2 linked regions of the Homo sapiens genome follow. The protein of the gene in region 2 purifies or fractionates together with the protein of the main gene of each other region. This does not show direct contact. Each region holds a gene or a part of one and is shown on either strand. Other genes may lie near its edges.

Region 1 (3,823 bases), on a different chromosome or scaffold from region 2:
TAAAGTTAAGATGATGTCATACTGGAGTAAGGTGGCCATTAATCCAGTATAACAGGTGTCTATATAAAGGAGGAAAACTTGGGCTGGGCGTGGTGGCTCACGCCTGTAATCCCAGCACTTTGGGAGGCCGAGGTGGGTGGACTGCTTGAGGTCAGGAGTTCAAGACCAGCCTGACCAATATGGTGAAACCCCATCTCTACTAAAAATACAAAAATTAGCCAGGTGTGGTGGCTCACGCAGCTACTTGGGAGACTGAGACAGGAGAATCACTTGAACCCAGGAGTTGGAAGTTGCAGTGAGCCAAGATTGCGCCACTGCACTCCAGCCTGGGCAACAGAGCAAGACTCTGTCTCAAAAATAATAATAATACATAAAATAAAAAAATAAAGGAGGAAAACTTGGACACAGACACAGGAAGGCAGCTAGCCACAGGAAGACAGAGGCAGAGATTGGAGGGATGCTGCCACAAGCCAAGGAACAGCTGGGGCTACCAGACTGGAAAAGGTACGGAAGGATCTTCCCTACAGGTTTCAAAAGACGCGTGGCTCTGCCCACACCTTGATTTGGGACTTCTTGCCTCCAGAACTGTGAGAGAATGCATTTCTGTTGCCATAAGCCACCCAGTCCATGGTACTTTGTCATGGCAGCTGCAGGAAGTGAACACACTCCCAGCACTGCCCTGCCTGCAGTGCCTGGCCTGCTGCTCACGCATGCTCCCGCTTACCGTCACTGCTCTGCTGAGTCACCATCACCACGTCGGCTTTCTCCAGTGCCAATTCATCATTCTCTCGGGGCTTGTAGGCTCGAAGGCACTGTACCTGGGGGGAGTCTTTGGAAGAGAAGAGTGTGAAGAGAGGTTAGGAGAGGCAGGGGATTGGAACACAGACAGGGACTTGGAGGGGGGTGGCGTGGGAGGACTTGAGATAGAGACAGATTTGGGCTGTTGAAAGTCACAGACAAAAGAGGAAATTTGAAAATGGTTAATAAAGAAATAGACATACCAGAAATGAAATGGACCAAAAATTCCACTTCTCCAGAGGAGACGGGTTGAGAAATACATGTGATCATCTCAAATACCTGAGATCCAGCTAATGACCCATCTTCCCTCTGAAACCGTCCCTGACTCTAGTCTTCAATGGGTTCTGAACTCTTTTAAGACTGCTTGTTCATGCCAAGGCATTTATCCCTTATTTAACTGCTACATGGACGTGTTTTGCCTCTCCAACTGGATTATAAAATCTGAGTCTGTGTCTTATTCTTCATTTTCTTCCCAGTACCAGATGTGGAACCAAGAAAGACTTAACTAGTGGTGTCCCAGGTTTGACCTAAGCCAGAGACTGAAAGCCCTGGAGCTTCAGTTTACTCATCTATCAGTGATCAAGATGGTTATTGATCAAGGTTGATCAGATGAATCTTGAGGACATTCAAGATTTCTCTATTTCTATGTTTTTGAGAACCAGGAGACATGTCCATAGATCTGAAGCTCAAGAAAACAAGCCTCAGAGAATGCTTCACCTATCAGTATTCCATCATATGTGGGTTTATGGCTCTTTTTTGTTACTACACTGCCTTGATTCTCTTGTAAAATAAATGGAATACTGCATTACTATTTGCTTTCTCAAGATCCTCCCCATCTGCCATTCACAAGGTCAAAATGAAGGAGGAAGAATGCTCCTGCCCTCCTCACCCACTGGGGAACTGAAGCCAGCAGATGGAGTGCACAGTGAGCAAGTTAACAGCGTTCAGTTACTACACGGCTCTCCTACTTCATTCCCAGGGTTCCTTGTAGTTGTTTGTTCTTTTCAGTCACTAAAGGTCCAGGGTTGAGGTCAGATTCTCTCTGGATTTAAATTAGGGAATCTTTGCTGGAGGACAACTGTGGGGCTGACATGAGAGGCATAAGAAGTCCAGTCTTGGTGTGAACACAGACACATACATAATGTGTGTGTGCCTGTGGCTCCCCATGGGCACCCAGAAGCCTGGGGTAGGTGACCTCAGGTCATCCTCTTAGGTGTGGTCAAGATAGATCTGGGGTGCTATCCTCCTGCACACCTTCTACCACCGTCAGGCTTTCTTCCCCTACCCCAACAAGACCTTCAAGCAGGTAAAATCTAGGCAAAATAATGTCAGCTTAGACTTAAGGGGACAAATATTTTTAAAAAGAGCAAACTATTGCCCAAGGAAGGGAATGTATGGGGAAGGGGGACTGCCATAGTGATGAGCAGTTTTAGGCGATATATTTCAGGTTTTTAAGCTCTAGAGGCCAATCTTCCACCCTGACATTTTACGGAATATCAATAAATGAAAGCCTAGAGTTCCCACCCAGCCCTTTAAACTCCTGTATCCAAAGGTGACATCTGACCCTGCTTTCTTTTCTCTCCCTCTTAGACCCTCACTCACTGTAACACTCCAGAAGGTCCAACTCCTCTCTTGGCATGGCCAAGGCTGAGATCCACCGAAGCTTTTCACTTCTGAGAAAACAAAGCAGGGTCATAGCATCAATTGTGGGGGTGTAGGAGGAGGGCCAAGGATGGGGATGGCAAAAGACTGTGGGAAGGACTTATCTAGTTCCATGACTTCTATCAAACACTATATAGGACTCTTTTTGGTTGGAAACATGACACAATCTTGAACTATATGTGAATGTGTCTTGTCACACTTTACTTTTCCTCTTCTCTTTCCAGAATTATCCTCCTAATGGCTTCTCATATCTTCCAAGTTGGGGCGTAATGTTCATTAGTCATAAAGTCTGGAGATTTTCTGTTTTGGAAATTGTGCTAAGCGAAGTGTTCATTTCAGTTTAGATTCCCTCCATCATTTGGCATGATTCTTGACACTCGCTTGCCTATCTCCCTTCAACTAACTATCTCAGAGATGATCATTGTTTCATAATAATAATTAGATCAGGGAGATATGTCTACTGTTTTATTTGTTGTTGTTGCACGGTGTAATCCAAGCTTAGGTTTGTAATCATCTGAAGGTTTCTGCATTCTGTTAGCCTCTGTGCCCAGTTGTGCCTAGGTAACTGGGAATGGACTATTACTGTTCCAGGCACAGTGCCCAAAGCACCAAACCAACAACATGCATCTGCACCTGATTATTTGACTTATGTGCTGTTTTGCACACAAACTCCGATACTAGTCCTTCTGTTCAATAAATGAGAACAGGTGTTATCGGTCCCACTCTGAAGTATCTTCCAAGGGACAAAACTGAAAAAGTGTCTACAACATAGGGATCCTCAAACACTTAGATACGTCAAACTTTTAAATGACTGTTCATATATCTTTTATAATAGCAATAACAGCTACAGGCTTTTACATGTTCATTATTGCAGGCACTGTGTTCCAGATTTTATAGGTACTATTAATACTCTCAAAAATGTATGTCTGTGTGAATGTATTTTATTTTATTATTATTGAAAACATGAGCAAATCAGCATTCTCAACACTATGGATTTCTGGTCAATAGAGGACTGGTTTGGAAGATGGGAGCACAGAAAGTAAAAGTCACCCAGCACTTGTCTTATTCACATCTGTGCCCACCAGCTGGGGCATAGAAGGGTTTCTGCCTCAGGCATGGAGGCATGTGCTCACAGATACCAGTATTCCAATTCCTTGCTCACTCCATACCAGTCCTTCTCCTTTCTGATACTACACAGACCTTGTCCCTCTTGAGTAAAGAGTATAAAATAGATGCTAAGCCTCGGTGGTGACTTTGTACCCTCTCCCACCCCAATCTCCTGCAAGTTATCCATTAGTTTTAGGAGTCTGAATTTCTCTATGGTGGTCCCCAGTCCAGAATGGGCTAAATGAGGCTGTGGCTG
Region 2 (3,823 bases):
TTTGGGGAGGAATTTTCCAGAGGTGAGTTTGGTGGAAGAGTAGGGACAACAGTGTGAACTAGTGATAGTGACAGAGGCATATAATTGAGACTGGCTAGAATGAGAGTCAACAGGCCTGGAAATAAATGTCAAGTATTGTAAGTGCTAGATGGGAAGGATATTTTGGCCAACTAGGAGGGAAAGAAGGGATGAGATATCCTGTCCCATTCTGGAACAAATTCATACTCCTGGTGATTATGTAACTTCCATATCTTGCAAAACTTTATGGGAAAGCCATTATATAAGATTTACTTTGATTTTAAAAAAAGTTCTTACAGCTTGAATCCACACAGAAATTAACTGCTGCAGTTCCATTCTCGCCTGAGTTGACAGTTCCAAGATGCGTTCTCTGTGCTCATGGCTGGTGTAGGCAGAATCAGTAAAGTCCTCCATACGCTCCAAGATGACTTCCAATGTCACAGAAAGGTTCTCTTTGGACTGAAAATAAAGATTCTCCCGAAGAGCTTCAATATTCATCTGAGAACAAAAAGGACATCTATCCATCCATGTGAGTCAATATTCCCACCTGACCAAAATGGGCTGTAATTTCTAACAGTGCCCAGGAAAACACTAGCATTTCCTTTTCCCAAGCTGAGGGGAAATACAGCCACCAATGATATCTATATTCGCCACTAACCCAGAAGGATACATTGCTCAAAAGCCTTCAATATCCATGCAAAGCACCATTCCTAGAGTAATTAATACAATGACATTGCTATGAGATCAGTGAATACTAAGGCAGAAAGAGCATCATCCTCTAGCAACTGGCAGGAAAAATGAACCAGCCTCCAGGTAAAAGATTTGCATCTGAGAAAATGCCTAGGCAAAGTCCTGGAAGATAAGTTACACCCAAATATGAAATGTGCTGAGCCCAGGGGGAAGGATGGTGTGGAAGATGTGGGGTGTGAGAAGCACTGGGGAAGACATCCATTTTTCCTTTGTTAATTCAGCAAAGACTCTCCTAGTCACCTAACTGGTCTCCCTACATTTTGTTTAAAGTCCCCAACAGCACCTTACTGACCCAAACATCCTCTACCAGAGGGTCTGTATAATCTAAAATGTAAACCATCTGATACTGCCACCTCCCTCTAATAGTTCCTCGCCATCTATAGAGAATCAAGCCCAAACGTCTATGTAGTATAGCACAAAATCCTCTATGGCCTGTCTTTATATACTTCTCTAACAGTCTATCTCACCCCCTGAACCCCCTAACAACCTTTCACTTCAGCCATCCTGTTTGGAGTTCCTTGACTATGTGATGAACACATGCTCATGTGTGCAGTCTTTCTCTCTCAGCTTTCTACGATGCATCATGCCATTTCAACCCTGTAAAACACTACAGTCCATGAAATATGTCACACAGACAACTTGGGCCAAGAGGCAACAAGCGGTAATGATCATGATTATGGTCACAATGAATGTGATAATAAGGATACCTTACATTTGTTTAACACTTCAAAGTCCTTTCACAAATGTTATTTTAATTAATCCTTATGTGTGACCCATTTTAACATCATCCATGAAAATATCAAAGTTTGGGAAAGTCAAGATGCCATAGGAGAGTCCTTGCTTCCCCTCCTGCTCTTGGCCCAAGTTGTGTCAGGTGATCACTCCATCCTAGGTAGACAGAAACTTGTATTTAAGCTAGGAAAGAATACAGATAATAGTAAGGTATGGAATTTACAATGGGGATCTTCTCAGAGAATTAAATTTATTTTATTAATTTAAGAGAATTAAATTTGAGAATTTAAACAGAATTAAAACATAAAAATCAGTTATATTGGTCTCATACCATTTATGTTAAGGTTTTTTATTTTCCCTTTAGAGAGAAAATATACATGTTTTTAGACAGCAACTTAGTGGAGTTTTGTGGGGTTTTTTTAAAGAGGCTATTTACTGATATGGTTTCATAACATTTGTCCATATATTCATGGTACCAAATACAGCAAAGTACCCAGTTTCCCTCCATAGATTATACTCTCCATCAGAAAAAAAGCAAGATGCCAAAGAGATAATCATGGACAGTGAGACTGAGCCTATTTATAACAGCTCTGCCTCCAGCATGCCTGATGGCGAGAGGGCAGCAGCCAGAGCTGTCGGCAGCAGCCACAGGCAGAGCACTGCCCCTCCTTCACCTGCACTAGAAATGCAGCAGCAGGTGGTGAAAGATGTCTCTCACTTGACTTACTTGTTTCCCTAATTATCCTTTGACAACACATCTCCTCCTTCAGCATTTATAAAAAGGGAAGATTAGAAAAATAATCTCTAAGATCTCTTTCAGCAATAAAATTTCTAAGAGAAGGTTTGGTCTGTACAGTTTCTTTCCCCTCAGGAAGACTCAGTGGTAGGACTGGCATCATATAAACAAACCCAGAGGTGTAAAGTGAAAGGTCATGGACTTTGGGATTAGAGAATCCTGGGCCTAAAGAAGGGTTCTACCACTTACTAGCTCTCCTCCTCAAAAAAAAAAGACAAAAAACAAAAAAAAAAAAAACAGTATATAATTATATCCACCTAAAGGGCAGGTAGGGATTAAATAAAATATTTATTAAGAGCAAAAAGAGATATTCTTTCCATTACTGTCTTTTCACCCCATGTTCCTACTTAGACCTTCACACAATTAGAAATCAAAGTCCAGGGCCAGGCGTGGTGGTTCACGCCTGTAATCCCAGCACTTTGGGAGGCCAAGGTGGGCGGATCACCTGAGGTCCGGAGTTCGAGACCAGCCTGGCCAACATGGCAAAACCCCATCTCTATTAAAAGTACAAAAATTAGCCGGCTGTGGTGGTGGGTGCCTGTAATCCAAGCTACTCAGGAGGCTGAGGCAGGACAATTGCTTGAACCCAGGAGGTGGAGGTTGCAGTGAGCCAAGATCGTGCCACCACACTCCAGCCCGAGAAACAAGAGTGAGACTCCATCTCAAAAATAAATAAATAAAATAAATCAAAGTGCAGTAAAATGGAAAGAATGCCATTCTCATCATAGCCCTGTCTGTTAGAGAGGTGGGAACCTTTAGCATTTGGATAACTTCTCAGGGCCTTAGTTTTCTGATCTGTTAAAGGAGGGCATTGTACTAGATGACTTCTTAGGGCCCTCCCAACTCAGACACTGCTCTTACCCAGAAAGCATCTTCACCATGTCTATGACTTCTGATGAGAAGTCAGACTTCCTGGAGTCACACTGCCTAGTTTCAAATCCCAACTCTGGTACTTAGTAGCCAGCAAGTTAATATCCTTTCTGTTTCTCAAGCTCCTCAACAGTGTAATGGAAATAATAGCAATAGTTCTTTGAGGATTATATAAGTTCATATATTTAAAGCACTCAGAAAAGGGCTGGCACAGAATAAGGACTCAATAACTGTTAGTGTGTATTACTGTTGATTTTTAAATTTTAATTATTACTAATACTATTACTATAGTCTCAAAGTACCAACCCTCTAACACAGAGAAAAGCAGGAATTCTAGCAGAAATGATTTGCTGCTCACCATCATCCTATGGATGGTACTGCTCAAAAAGATATGGCACTGCTCAAAAAACAGGAAGGGAACATTCTTTTGAACAGGAGGCTACAGCTAAACCATACAGCTAAACAGAGCCAGAGTAGCTACTATAACCAAAGACCAGTGTTCTTTGTAAATACACCTTTAATGTAAATATTACTGAGCAACAAGTTTGTACAGAGTGGCATTGCTTTAAATAGATACATTTGCTTTTGTGAAGCACTGTTCTAAAACATTACACAAAAATATGGATACTATACATAATGATGCTCCTTTAAAATGGA

The links.
Region 1: the proteins of CTNNAL1 (region 2) and ARHGEF5 purify together in Homo sapiens (tandem affinity purification; one study listed by IntAct). This does not show direct contact.

What each region holds. Positions count from the first base shown.
Region 1 is NC_000007.14:144,375,768-144,379,590, reverse strand, and holds part of ARHGEF5 (rho guanine nucleotide exchange factor 5), read right to left. Parts: intron 2,472-3,823; coding exon 2,401-2,471; intron 830-2,400; coding exon 725-829; intron 1-724. UniProt on the Homo sapiens protein: Guanine nucleotide exchange factor which activates Rho GTPases. Strongly activates RHOA. Also strongly activates RHOB, weakly activates RHOC and RHOG and shows no effect on RHOD, RHOV, RHOQ or RAC1.
Region 2 is NC_000009.12:108,978,966-108,982,788, forward strand, and holds part of CTNNAL1 (alpha-catulin), read right to left. Parts: intron 517-3,823; coding exon 316-516; intron 1-315. UniProt on the Homo sapiens protein: May modulate the Rho pathway signaling by providing a scaffold for the Lbc Rho guanine nucleotide exchange factor (ARHGEF1).